4 linked regions of the Homo sapiens genome follow. The protein of the gene in region 4 purifies or fractionates together with the protein of the main gene of each other region. This does not show direct contact. Each region holds a gene or a part of one and is shown on either strand. Other genes may lie near its edges.

Evidence for each region.
Region 1: the proteins of MFNG (region 4) and KDM8 purify together in Homo sapiens (affinity purification with mass spectrometry; one large-scale study listed by BioGRID and IntAct). This does not show direct contact.
Region 2: the proteins of MFNG (region 4) and SEC62 purify together in Homo sapiens (affinity purification with mass spectrometry; one large-scale study listed by BioGRID and IntAct). This does not show direct contact.
Region 3: the proteins of MFNG (region 4) and ITIH2 purify together in Homo sapiens (affinity purification with mass spectrometry; one large-scale study listed by BioGRID and IntAct). This does not show direct contact.

Annotation. Positions count from the first base shown.
Region 1 is NC_000016.10:27,213,526-27,217,025, reverse strand, and holds part of KDM8 (bifunctional peptidase and arginyl-hydroxylase JMJD5), read right to left. Parts: intron 3,442-3,500; coding exon 3,275-3,441; intron 2,424-3,274; exon of another isoform or gene 2,254-2,423; intron 2,151-2,253; coding exon 2,018-2,150; intron 1,082-2,017; coding exon 1,037-1,081; intron 1-1,036. UniProt on the Homo sapiens protein: Bifunctional enzyme that acts both as an endopeptidase and 2-oxoglutarate-dependent monooxygenase.
Region 2 is NC_000003.12:169,973,307-169,976,806, reverse strand, and holds part of SEC62 (translocation protein SEC62), read right to left. Parts: intron 1,200-3,500; coding exon 1,091-1,199; intron 1-1,090. UniProt on the Homo sapiens protein: Mediates post-translational transport of precursor polypeptides across endoplasmic reticulum (ER). Proposed to act as a targeting receptor for small presecretory proteins containing short and apolar signal peptides.
Region 3 is NC_000010.11:7,720,316-7,723,815, reverse strand, and holds part of ITIH2 (inter-alpha-trypsin inhibitor heavy chain H2 precursor), read right to left. Parts: intron 2,961-3,500; coding exon 2,853-2,960; intron 2,168-2,852; coding exon 2,039-2,167; intron 366-2,038; coding exon 249-365; intron 1-248. UniProt on the Homo sapiens protein: May act as a carrier of hyaluronan in serum or as a binding protein between hyaluronan and other matrix protein, including those on cell surfaces in tissues to regulate the localization, synthesis and degradation of hyaluronan which are essential to cells undergoing biological processes.
Region 4 is NC_000022.11:37,469,385-37,472,884, forward strand, and holds part of MFNG (beta-1,3-N-acetylglucosaminyltransferase manic fringe), read right to left. Parts: intron 3,145-3,500; coding exon 3,059-3,144; intron 646-3,058; coding exon 579-645; 3' UTR 1-578. UniProt on the Homo sapiens protein: Glycosyltransferase that initiates the elongation of O-linked fucose residues attached to EGF-like repeats in the extracellular domain of Notch molecules.

The DNA of each region.
Region 1 (3,500 bases), on a different chromosome or scaffold from region 4:
CTGGCTCATCTTGAAAGTCACTGTGAACTTGGCCTTCTACTCCTAAATATAACTCCTCCTGTCCTACAAAGTATGAAACAGCTGCTCCAGGACAGGGAGCCAAGGTTAACCATGGCTTCCAGGGTCCCCAGCCCACACTGAGGCCATGCCCCCAGGATGACCAGGGTCAGGAGAAAGGTGGGTCTCGGGATCACACAGTAGGGACCTGATCAATTAGAATCCCCCTTTCCTTCACTTAGCAAGTGACATGGACAGGACGCAGGATGCACAGGTCCTAATAGGGAGGCCTGGGGAAGAGAAACCGCCAGCGTCCTTTAATGTCGGCATGAAGGCTCCTGGCACAGCCCCTACTGGCCCTGGGTCCCCCATCGAGACAGAGAAGCAGTCCTGGCTTCAGCAGTAGATACAGCAGCTGATCAGCATCCCAGGGCCCCACTGCAAAGGCTACAGAGGTGCGGCCCCAGCCCACCCCTGGCTGTAGCCCTGACCCTGACTGACTCGAGTCTTCCACGTTCGGGACACGCACCTGGCCCTATCCTTGAATCCTGCCAAGGGCTGCCTTCCTGGGCACTCCTGGCAGACACCACACCAGCCAGGTCCCTCCTGGGCGCCCCAGCTCCATCTATTTAGTGTTTTGGGGTCCTGAATCTGGGCATCTTCCCCGATCTTCCCTCCCTCCCCCACACATCCACCCACGTCCAGGGCTCGGTGGTTCACACCGGTCTTGAACTGCTCCACCTGCCAGCATCACCTCTCCTTGCACCACAGCAATAGCCCAGCCAGCCACCCGCTCCGACAGCTGCTCCCTTCATCTCTGAATAGCAGCCCCTACAATCCTCGGGGCACTGGCGACCCCCCAGTGTTTCCTGTCACTTTAGGAAAATGGCTCCTCATCACCCACGTCCTGTCACCTTCCTAGCCTCACCTGCTGCCTCCCTCCTACTCACGCTCACTGCTCCAGCCGCACTGAGCCCAGGAGGGGAGGAGAGGGGAAGGTGAGACGGTGAGGGGCAGAGGTGCGTGGCCTCAGACTTACCTGGTCAAAGAGCTGGTGCTGAGCAAGGTACCCGACGTCCCTTGGCTAATCCACCGGGGAAAACCAGAGGCAACACAGAAAGCCCAGTTAGTCATGACAGATGCCCTCCTGCTGCTGCTGTCCAGCTGGCCCCAGCTGCAGCACCCGTCACCCTTCCACTCCATCCTGAGTGGTCCTCTCCAACCCTTAGAGGCCCTGGGGCAGCTTCAAAGAACCTCTCCAGCACCGGGGTACCCAGTTTGTAAAGCACTGATCTCATCCATCTGATTGGCAAACATTTTCATAAAATGGCAACAAACAGTGCAGGCAAAGATGTAAGAAAATGGACACTTGTGTTAATTGCTGGTGAAAGTATAAGTGATCTAACTTTTGGGAAAAATAAATTGTCCTATCCTGTCCTGTCGTAATTTTGACAGGGCCTGGTTCTATTGTCCAAGCTGGAATGCAGTGGCCTGATCTTGGCTCACTGCAACCTCTGCCTCCTGGGCTCAAGCAATTTGCCCCACCTCAGCCTCTTGAGTAGCTGGGATTACAGGCACGTACCACTATACCCAGCTAATTTTTATATTTTTTATAGAGACAGGGTTTCACTATGTTTCCCAGGCTGGTCTTGAACTCCTGGTTTCAAGTGATCCGCCTGCCTCAGCCTCCCAAAGTGCTGGGATTACAGGTGTGAGCCACCATGCCTGGCTGCTATTAAAAATTTAAATACACATACTCTAGACTTAGCTGTCCAACTTTTGGAACAGGCTAAAACCCACTGAATTATACTCCCCTGCCCATTAAAAAGGACCTGACATGAATCCCTCATGTCTGCTGGCTAAGCAGCCTGCCTTCCTCGCTGCGGTCGTCCCTCCGACCACAGACTTACAGCCTGGCTCCTCCAAAACCTCCCATTACAACACATGGGGGGTTATTTGCCTAAATGTACTATGCTCTCTGCCTTGCAAGTACTAGGGGAAAGCAGTCCCCATGATGTACCTCATTCACGATGTATTTGCTGATGAACTCGTTGACCGTCATGAGGGTCTGGGACCATTCCTCATCTGTGTACCTCGAACCAACTTCCACTGGGACAGTTCGGCAGCCAGCGATCTCCTGGATATACTCCAAACTAGCAGAAAGACACACATTGGCATCGTCACTGCTAATATCTGTTGGGCATAGTACTAAGTGTGCTTTGCATGTGGTCCCCTTTCATCCTCGGAAAACCTCACGTGCAGAGACAAGGACTGTCATCCCCAGCTTCACTGATGAGGAACCGGCATGGAGAGGTGGGGCTCCCTGCTCAAGGCTGTGTGGCTCATACACAGTGCTGTGCAGCTTTGCAGACAGGGCCGGTAAGTCTGGTTGGCTGGGCTGCTCTAGTTCCCTGCTTGCCAACAGCCTCCTCACTTCTTTCTTTGCTCATTTTGTCACTAAGCTGAGAAACCTTTGAACAAATAGCGGACAGCGTGGCAGGTGGCAGTCTCCTGGACTCTGCCCTCTAGCCTGGGACTGATTCCAGGCCTCATCAGTTACAGGCCAGGGGATCTGAGGCAGGTTACTGAACCCGAGTCCTTGATCCCCATTTACAGAATGGGGGTGATGACAACACCTGTCCTAGTGCCAGGTACGTAGTAAAATGCTTAATGAAGCCTTGCTGTGAGGAGAGCTCCTGCAATGAGAATTCCTCCACATGTGTCAGCGGGTACCATTCCCTCCGCGAAACCACAAAACAGGCGGACTCCATCTACCTTCCTGGAGAGATGCCTCCTTATTTCCAAACTCATGCAGAGCCGCGGCATGACAGCCACGCTCCAGCTGCCTGATCTGATCTCCCCATCATGATTCTGAGAAAGGACTAGAAACAAACACAAGAGACCACAGAATCCCTCAGAGAGAGAGGGGCTGTCTCTTGGGTTATTTCTGCTCTTAGCTTCAGGGCCCTGAGATGGTCTGAAATTGCTAGGATCCTGTAAAATTGCATAACAGAAACATTCTAGGACTGCCACTTAGGGACTCATTAAAAAACCGCTTAAGGCGAGCAAGGTAGAAGGTAAGAATCCCATAACCTGCGGCATAAATTCAGAGCACCTTACTTTTCACTCTTTTTTAACCCCTTGGCAATCAGTCAAGGGCTGCTAGTGAAGCATCTACAAGGTTGCATTTCCCTGGGGATGGTCGGGAGGAATTCAGGGAGCCCTGGGGAACGCTAAAATGGGAAAAGGGACCTCACCTCCCTCAGCGACCACCCACCTCCACTTCTGCATGCACGGCCAGTGGTCAGCCACGCCTTTCAGGATCACGGGCCTCCCTGGAACCAAAAACTGCTCCCTGAAATGCTGGAGGGACGGACGGTGCAGCCGGGGGACTGTTTTTTCTAACTTCACATCTGGAATCAAACCATGGTCCGCCCTTGCTTTCTGTTTAAAATCAAAACAGAACAAAATAGCAACCACCTCAGGAAGTCGACATTTGAGGT
Region 2 (3,500 bases), on a different chromosome or scaffold from region 4:
ATCATGATTAGTAGTTCCCCAAAACCTCAACTTGTGAACTATATTAAGTATCTTTTAAAAGTAATGTTGGGAAATAATGGCATTCAGAAAGACCAACTAAAGCAAGTTAAATTAATGGGGAAATATTCAAAAATTTAAAATATCTGTATGTAACTATCACTCTTATTAATCACAAGCATATGTAGATAAACCAAAATGTTCACCACTCCCTGCAAGTAATAAAAATTCTCATCAAGTTTTACTCTAATACACTGAGGAAGAAGCTCTGTCAACAATCCACTGCTGTCACAAGAAACAGCTAAACATATTATATCTGAAGAGATTAGCACATCTACTTTTTAAAACTTGTAATGAATGTCAAATCATTAAAAACAGTAAAGAAAGAGACGATAAAGGACTTTTCCTCTACACTGGCAATTTAGTTTTTTTTTTCTTCTAAGAGACAGGTTCTTGCTCTGTCACCCAGGCTGGAGTACAGTGGTGGGATCATAGTTAACTGCAGCCTCTAACTCCTGGGCTCAAGCCATCCTCTCACTTCAGAGGCGCATGCCATCATACTCATCTAATTTTTTTGTAGAGATGGGGTCTCATTGTGTTGCATAGGCTGGTCTCGAACTCCTGGCCTCAAGCAACCCTCCTGCCTTGGCTTCCCAAAGTGTTGGTACTATAGGTGTGAGCCACGACACCCAGCTGCAATTCACTTTTAATTGATGAGAAAGGCAAACTCAACCCCTACTTATAAGCTCTGGTGTTATAAATGACATCAGCTTATAATGACATTGTTTGGGGAAAAAAAGCCAGTGCTCTTAGTTCCAAGTACGCATACTATCTAAACAAAAGGTAGTATTTTAAAACACTGAAAATAAATCCTATTTAAAAAAATTTCCAACAATTGTTATTAGAAAACATGTTATCTTTTTATTATAGACATTTTCAATCATAAAAGAAAAGAACAGAATAATCAACTGCCATATGTCCATCACCAGAACAATCACATTTGGAAAGCACTTTTAAAACTTCTACATATCCCAAATGTAGGTTAACTTCATAACATATGTACACTAATACGATTTTACTGATATAATCCTACCAATAAAATAATCAACCCGGTGACCCATCATATTGGTGGACTTTGTTGGACAGTTGAATCGAAGATACTTGGCCACAGCCTTCTCTTCTTTAGATGGTTCACCAACTTCCTGCAACATATGAATATTAATTTAGTATAATCATATACTTGAGAAATTCATGCGCTGAATAATAATTTACAAATCTATTTTATGAATCTTTTCAAGTGGAGTACAGGCCTTGCTTTCAAGCTTTCTCTGGAGCGACCTAATAAAGTATTCAAAAGACAAAAATGGAGATTTAAAGAAACTACGTTTTTCAAATATAAGTTGATAGAGGCAAAGCCTGTCTGCTTCTTGGCTTCAACTATGAGGCATTTGAGTTGTTTTTTCCACAATGGTAACTACTTTGTACCAGTTCACTTTCATTCTTATACGGTCTTTTTTTTTTTTTTTTTTGAGATGGAGTCTCACTCTGTTGCCTAGGCTAGAGTGCAGTGGTGCGATCTCGGCTCACTGCAACCTCTGCCTCCTGAGTTCAAGTGACTCTCCTGCCTCAGCCTCCCAAGTAGCTGGTATTACAGGTGCCTGCCACCATGCCCAGCTAATTTTTGTATTTTTAGTAGAGACAGGGTTTCGCCACGTTGGCTAGGGTGGTCTTGAACTCCTGACCTCAAGTGATCCGCCAGCCTAGGCCTCCCAAAGTGCTGGGATTACAGGCGTGAGCCATCGTCACCGGCCTATAGTCTCTTTTTATAAGCCACAAAACAGTAATTAAAAAGATAAGATGTTGCTAATAGTGAGTATCCAAATGTCAAAGTAAGTAGAAACAAGTGTCATAAATAAATGTTAAAATAACAGCCAAAGATATGTATCCTGAACAATGGACAACAGATCGCAGAAGGAGTTCTCAAATTAATCAATGACAGCTGCCCCCAATGTGGTAGCCATAAGAACTACTGACACAATGACAATTTGTATTCTCTTTCCTTTCCCCCTGTGGCTGCAGATACCAGACACTCCTGGGACTGTCTTTCTCATCTTCTCTTCTCCAGTAAGGGTGAGGCAAAAATGAAAAATGCAAAAAGAGTTATTACTATCTCATTTGAAGAGGTGATTAATGGAAGTGCACTGACAAAGAGTCGTTTTGGAAAGGCCGTTTTAATCCTTCTCTGCTTTCTTTCTTCTATATCTTTTCCCAAATTTTCTATTATTTTCTTCATTGTTTCTCATTCCCCATCTTCCCTTTATTCCCTTTCATTCTGAACTTCTTTGACAATTCCTCCTGTGAATTTATTTTCCCTACTCACGTACTGAAGAAAATGAAGGCAGTCTATCTTTGTATACATCTTATGTATAAACTTTCAAAAGCTGTCTTATTGCTGTAAGCTATTGAAACAAATGCACTGTACTTAATTACTGTCTATAATTGCATGCTTAAGCACAATACACAGAACATTCAGTATTTCCAGCAACATATAATCTAAATGTGAATGATTTCAGGAAGGGCTGCTTCATTAAAGAATAAAATGACAAATAATAGTAAAAAATAATCTGGCAAGAATCTAAGATGCTAAGAATTAATGCTAAAGACAGCTGTTTCAAGCAAAAAAAATCTAATGATGCAAAATAGAAAAAAGAATCTATCCAACTTATCTATGTTGGGTTTTTCCAAAGTTAAGAGAAGTCTGAATTAAGTTATGTTTGAGGAAAATAAAGAACAACCAACAAACCTACGTTTCAGCTTTAACTTTATCCCAAAAAGGAATAATTTGTTAGATGAAGTGGAAGTTTTTGTTTTGGTTACTGAGTCTCCTGGCAGGTACATCTCTCATTTCTTCCTTTGTATTTCGCAAGTCCTCTACTTCCAGTAGCCCAATTACCTGTGTAAGATCATACCAGTGTACAATTCCTACAGTCTGCAACTACCAGCTGTGGGCTATTTGTGGCAATAAAAATTAAGAGCCCAAATCACTCAACCCAAAAGAAGGCTACTATAAAAACCAAGTATTTATGAAATTAAAACTTTTATATATGAAAATACGTATCACAAAAAGTAGATTTTTTTTTTTTTTTTGAGACGCAGTCTTGCTCTGTCTCCCAGGCTGGAGTGCAATGGTGCTATCTCATCTCACTGCAACCCCCACCTCCTGAGTTCCAGCGATTCTCATGCCTCAGCCTCCCGAGTAGCTGGGATTACAGGTGCCCACCACCATGTCCGGCTAATTTTTTGTATTTTTTGTAGGGATGGGATTTTACCATGTTAGCCAGGCTGGTCTCGAATTCCTGACCTCAGATAATCTGCATGCCTCAGTCTCCCAAAGTCTTGGGATTACAGGCGTAAGCCACCACGCCCAGCAAAAAACTGGAACCTTAAAAAATGGCAAATTCAAAATTTAACACTCCAAGTTCAGGAACAACTACAAGATTCAT
Region 3 (3,500 bases), on a different chromosome or scaffold from region 4:
AAACAGGAAAGAGGAAGAAGAGAAGGAAGGGAATTTTACACTAGAGGAATGATTAGAAGACGGAGGTGTATGTCCTGTGAAATGCAATAATAGCAAAATTTTAGGAAGAGTTGACACCGGCAGTCTGTAACCACAGTCCCTGAGCTTCAGCCCTAAGCAGGGAGGAGGGATAGAATGATTGCATTTTTAGGAGGGGATCAAAGAAGATAGGGAATCCCCCCAACCACTGCAAACAAGGGGGTACTTACTTGTTTCATTTTAACTCCCCACATGGAGCCACTCACATCGATGACAAAGAGGATGTTTTTGGGAATTGGGTCCAGGTTGTCAGGAGCAAAGAAGTGGACAAAATATCCATTAAACACCTGAAAAATAGAAGGTATTTGTGAGTCAAATCATGATTCGTGTTTAGAAGGTAGGAAGATGGGGACCTGGGGACTCAGAGAAGAGAGGGGTCTACAGGGAGGAGGAGGCGGAGCTTGATGTGCATTTGCCTCCACATTTTCCTGCCTGCTCCCCCACCTCCTCTCCTCTGAGGGTCAAGACCTTCCTAGCAGAACATTCCGCTCCACTCCACTCCACGCTGCTTCACTCCACACCGCTCCACTCCACTTGACTCCTCTCCACACCATGCCACTCCACTCCACGTCACACCACTCCACGCCACGCCACTCCACGCCATGCCAGGGCACTCCGCTCCACACCACACCACGCCACTCCACTCTACTCCACTCCACGCCACGCTGCTCCACTCCACTCCATGCCACTTCACTTCACCCCACTCCACTGCACGCCACTCCACTCCACCCGACTTCACGCCACTCCACTCCACGCCACTTCACTCCACTCCACTCCACTCCACATCACTCAGTCTTTACAGAGAGCCCCTGTTCCAGGCGCCCTGCTAACCAGCGGTGAATCAGGCAGAGCACCTCCCGTCAGGAGGCTCCCAGCCAGCAGAGGATAAGGGTAAGTGGAGGCAATGTGCAGCGCGGTGTGTTCAACACCATGATTAGGAAGTAAAGGGCTCGGCAAGAGCCCCGTGTGCATCTAACGCGCACCCAGGGGACGGTTCTCTAGGAAGCAGCATCTCCACTGGGACCTAAGGATGAGCTCAGACTCAGAAGCTCTCTTGAGAGCTGGGCCAGGTTGAGATAGTGGGGAATGGGGAAGAGAGTTCCAGACAGCGCAGCCCCAGAGATGAGAAAACATGGCATATTTGGGGCTCCATATGTGGTTCAGCAAGATGGGGCCGTAGAATCCAAGAATTCAGGGAACTAGTTGGAGAATCAGCAAGACAGATCACGAAGGACGTGTATGGGCCACTTTAGAAAATTTGGATTTTTCTTGAAGTTAATGAGAGGCTGCCCCAGCTGGACTCCTGACCATCCTCTTTGTCTTCTGCTGCAGGCTTGATGACTGGCTCACCTAATTCTCTTTCCTCTGCCCTTTGGCTGCCTCTTTCCAGGAAACTACAGCATCCAGGTACAGGGTGTGTGCTCCGCTTGCTGTCCCTAGAGAGACTCTTGGAGTTTGCGTACGTTCTAAGAGTCCTCACCTTAGTACAAAGAAAGGAAGACACACGTCTGGGACATGACTGAAGGGGAAAGGAAACTTTTCAAGAAACTTCATGATAAACCTTGGCCTTGAAATTCACCGCTGGCTCTTGATCTTTCTAGGCTGTGGATGCGCCTTCCTCCTCACCCCGTAATCTCTGTGCTTTCTTTGATTGTCTAATTGCAAAGGGCCTTGGGAGCCTATTTAAAATTCCTGTTCTGTAATTATTCCTTTGTTCTTCACATGAGGCCCAGGAATGCCCTCCTGGGACAAGAGCATGAGACCCTATTCATTTAGTTTTTAATACATAAAAGATAATGCTTAGCGGTATATTCAAAGAATATGATTTTAGTCCCTTCTCTGCAGCTAGAAACACTTGCCCTGGCAGCTAGAAACCACCCATAGGCCTGGGAGTTTGTTCAAAAAGGAGCAGCTCTTTGGCACGAGCTTGGCAGTAGAACCAGAGCCGGTGTGCACTCACCTCCAGTTCACCAGCCTTCTCTTCTCTTTTCACGTCATACAGCACCACCAGTTCCCCATCTACCGCAGTCTCCCGGCAGTTAGGGCATATTCTCTGCTGTGCTACCGTGGGCTTGAAGGAGACGTGCGCCTAGAAAGAACGGTGACATCAGAGCCTCTGCCTCTAGCCCCTTCCCAGTGCTTGGCGCTGCCCCTTCTCCAGCACACAGGGAAGAGGAGCTGCCCAATGGACGTTCTGAATCCCCGCGATATCGGTGGACCCATTACTGATGGGAAGGACATGCCAGGGCTTTTGCAGGGAGCATCTCTAGCCTGCCATGCTGTTTGCAAGGTTTCAGACCTTTTTAGAAGAAAGCCGAAGAATTTCCTTCATCCCCTGTAGAAGGGCTGACTATGTGCTTTGGAAAGAGTTTGTGAAATGTTTTAATGCTCTTAGAGGAGTTTCTCCTTACAGGAGTCATAGTTGGTTATCGCTGGTCATTGAGGCAGAGAGCTGAACATGTCTTGCTATGGTTAATGAATGAAAATCTGCCATATAGGATGTGAAAGCTGTCCTTTAGCTACTGGTTAAGCAGGTGACTGACGGGGAAATGAGACTCAAAAAGGGACAATCTCTGGTCAAAATGGAAGGAAAGCACTGGGAGTGTTGTTCTGTGTATCCTGGGGAGGCCCTAGGCTCTACTTGGGGATCCCCATTTCTTCAACAGTGTCCTCAACACCAGCCTGCTTTTCTCTTCTCCAGAGCACAGAAGGAGAACAGAACCCACAATCCAGAGGCCCTGTGAATGCCTGGCAACACACAGGGCTCAGGGTACCTTCTGTTGTCCTTTAGAAATGACCGGAACACCATCGAAATGGCCTTCAAATGTGTCGGGAACATGAAGAAATCTCAGTCCCTGTGGTTCGATAACCCACACATCTACCTAGAGATGCAAGAGAAAATTACCCAAAGCATTAAAAGTCTTTAAAGTCTTTTTAAGCAAGAAGTAAAATTACAAATAAGTCCTCTGATGCTTTTCTCCTCCGCAGGTTTCCCGGGCACGACTCCACGATCTCTCCTGCAGGATCTGCAAGTTCCTGCGATGGGATTCATCTCACCACGGAGGCTTAACCCCCTTCTGTCGACTCAGAGCTCTCCTTCTGCTGCCTCACTCCCCCAGGAGTCGACTCCCTTCCTCATTCTATTCGAGTCTTTTTATTTATAAGAGCATTTGCATTGTTAGGGAAAAAAAGAATTCCTTCTTCTTTTTCCCTCATTGTTAAATAGCACTGCATCTACTCTGTAGACCTGTCAAAAGTAGACCATTTTCCCCAAATCTTGGGTTGTTTTATTTCTTCTCTGTCTTCTTGCTTTGAACAGACCTCATCTAGGGAAATCCCCTTTGGTGATTCTTGACCAAACCACAGTCATAGCTGCCATTTTTTTCTTTTTTAAATTTAATTCTATGATTTGTTTGTTTATA
Region 4 (3,500 bases):
GCTGAGGCTCCAAACAAAATCTGGTCCTGTTCGCAAGGGGTGGGGAGCAAGGAGCTTTGGGAGACTGGTTGGCAACAACAGCAGGTGCTGCAGACCCTGGATTCTGCCATCATTCCACCCATGTCCCTTCAGGAACTCGGGACACAGATGAGGGAGGCAGGAGTGGGCGGCCCAGCGCTTGAGCCCCAGGGGAATGACTGAGAGACATTAGCCAGGGCCAACGGCCAGACCCCACCCAGAGGCCATGTCACTGCCTAAAGGGTTAGGACCCCTGAGCCCCAGCCCAGCTCAAGTGCCCCCTGCCCTTTTTCAATTCAGCCTCCTGAGGGAGTCTAGCCCCTGGAGCCTCTCTGGCCACCACCTGGTCCACCTGGTCCCCTGGGCTGTCTAACTCACCTCCCAGGGGCCTGGGGTGCCTTCAGTGCCAATTGCCACTCAGATCCTGGGCTTGCCAACCACCCGAAGGCCCTGCCAGGGACTGCCTATCACAAGACACTTGCCAGGGACCCACAGTGCCACCTTGGGAGCCAAGGCACACCCAGAAGTCTCTGCCCAACCTTTGCCCAGCAGTTCAGGATTCATCGGGCACCCAGCTGGGGACACCAGGGTGTATCTGGATAGAGCAGACAATGGAGGGAGCGAAATCTGCAGAGAGACCAGAAAAGGACAGGATGGTCACCCCCCACTTCTGCTCTCAGCCCACTCTCCTAGGTGCACACATGCCACAGAGGCGGTTTGGAGCAGGGTTTCTCTACCTCAACACCACTAACACTTAGGGCCAGAGAATTCTTTGTTGTGGAGCTGTCCTGTGCCTTGCGAGATATTTAACAGCATTCCTGGGCTCTACCCACAAGATTCCAGTAGCATCTTCCTGAATCATAAGAATCAAAAATGTCTCCGACATTGCCAGACGTCCCCTAAGAGACAAATCACCCCCACTTGAGAACCGCTAGTTTGGAGAAACTTCAAAAGCCAGAGAAGCCATAAAGAGACCTCAGCTGAGGCCAATCATCTGATCACATGCATCTGAATCTCTAGGTGGCTCCAGACCCATTTGGCAGTAATCTATGACTTCTAGAATCTTCAAGCTTTGAGGAAATTTAACAGCAATTCTTAAACCTCTTGTCAGTATAGCTACGGCTTACACACTGCTGACGGGGAGCTCATCCTACTAGAAGGCAGCTTCGTTCGTCTTGGAATTTTGAATTTTTGTTCCTATATCGAGCCAAATTCTATCTCCTTGTAATATCCAACTTGTTCAACGCAGCCTTGGCCGCAAGGGCCCTCAGCATCATGGGAGCCCTCTGCCCCAGGACAGGCAGCACTGCAGAACGTCAGGGCCAGGGGCCCTGGTTCCTCCAAGCATCACAAGCGTCCAGACAGAGCCTACAAAGGCCTTGGAGAGGCCCCTGCCACGTCCCCAACCAAATTTGACACCATTCCCTCCTCTTCTCCACATTCCAGTCACACAGTCTCCCGTTCCTACCTTGAGCAGGTCAAGGCCTGTCTCCTGCTATCAGGCCTTTGCATATGCTGTCCCCTCTGCGGGAGTGATCTGCCACCTGCTCTTCTCCTAGCGAACTCCTGCTAGCCCTTCAGGTCCTTCACGTTACCTCCTCACAGAAGCCTTCCCCGGCCAGCCCCTACTCCCCAGTCAACATCAGGGCTCTGACTTACTCTCCCATAACAACCTATACTGGCATACTCACCCTCATCCCCTACACACACAGTGTCCCAGACTCCCCGTCCCCCAGGACTCCCTCTGGACAAGTCTCTGTCACTCAAGTGGGCCCAGAGTTCACCTCATGCCCTCCTCTACTCGTTACCTCCCTGAGTCCCTGCTAAGTCTCCAAAGGCAGAATCAGGGCTCCTTCCCCAGTTCCCAGACCCATTGCATGTCACTACAAGGAGCAGAAATGCAAATAGAAGGGTTGGGGCTAGTCCAGCTGCCCAGAGATGGAACAGACTGCCACAGGAGGGAGGAACTCCCCATGGCTGTAGGCATGCAAGGTGAAGCCAGCCCATCAGTTGGCAGAGATGCTGGGAAGGGGTCAAGCATCAGTTCTGGGGTTGGACTGATGGGCCCAGAGTCCATGTGTCCCCTCCCCCAACTCCTCTCCACCCCCATCCCGCCACCCCTGGCCAGAATCACAAGCCATAGCTGGGCCGGGGGCAGCGGCTCATGCCTGTAATCCTAGCACTTTGGGAGGTCAAGGCAGGCGGATCACTTGAGGTCAGGAGTTCGAAACCAGCCTGGCCAACATGGTGAAACCCCGCCTCCACTAAAAACACAAAAATTAGCCAGGCATGGTGGCAGGCGCCTGTAATCCCAGCTATTCGGGAGGCTGAGGCAGAAGAATTGTTTGAACCCGGGGGGCGGAGGTTGCAGTGAGTCGAGATCGCACCACTGCACTCCAGCCTGGGCAACAGAGCGAGGCTCCATCTCAAAAAAAAAAAAAAAAAAAAAAAAAGCCACAGCTGGCAGGTGCTGGTGTGTGGAAAGGAAGCTGCATATCACAGGCTATGCTCCAAGACTGCTCTAGACCAGTCAGGAGCGGATTTGGGTGGCCCATCTCCCCGTGGCCAGTTCTGGGCAGAACTGGAAGGTGTTATTCCAACCCTTTACCTGCCTAAAAGAAGCATTTAAGAGTATCAAAGAAACAAGGAGTCCAAAAGAGATAAAATAAAAATCCCCCACCAGAGCCTGAAGTTCCACCATGAGAGCGTTGCCTGTGCTCAGGGAAGGCATTTCAGCCTTCCAGGGACTCCCAAAGAACCCCAGAGGATTGGGGCTGGGAGAGCTCTTCAGATCCATCATGGCCAGCCTCCAGGTGTTACTAATGGGAGACCGAATCCCAGAGAGGGCAAGACACTTGCCCAAGGTCACACAGCAAGCCAGTGGCAGGGTCAGAAACTGAAATCCACTCCCTCCACTCCTAGCTCTGTGCTGTCAGCCACCAAAGCCTGTCCCACTCCACTCCCTCCCAGCTCCCCCATGTTTGGATGCCTGGACTCAGCCCCCACTCCTCCCATCCAAGGTTCCAGCCCCCAGACCCACCTGGAGGGGTCCTCCTCCGGGGAGAAGGGGCCCTGTAGCTTAATGACGTTGAGTTTCCCCTCAAAGACACCGTAGCTGAGGGTGACCTGGGCAGGGAGATAGAAGAGTGTTGGGGCATCACACTGGGGATCCCCACAAGGGGGCAGCATCCTGGCACAGGTGGAGGAGGGGTTTTAAGCTGCAGGGAAAGCTGCCCGGGAACCTGAAATTCCCCGCTGGTGGTGGGAGCCCACCCCACGCCCCAAGGCACTTCACAGCTGGAAGAGCACTGCCATGCCCTTAATCCCATTTGCTCCCTCAAGAGTTGAGCTCCCCTGAGAAGCTGGAACAATACCCCCATCTACAGATTTGGAAACTGAGGCTCAACAGGAAAAGGCAGCTTTCCAGTAAGCTGCAAGCCTGGACTAGAATGGAGGTTTTCTGAGACTCACTGGAGGGCCTT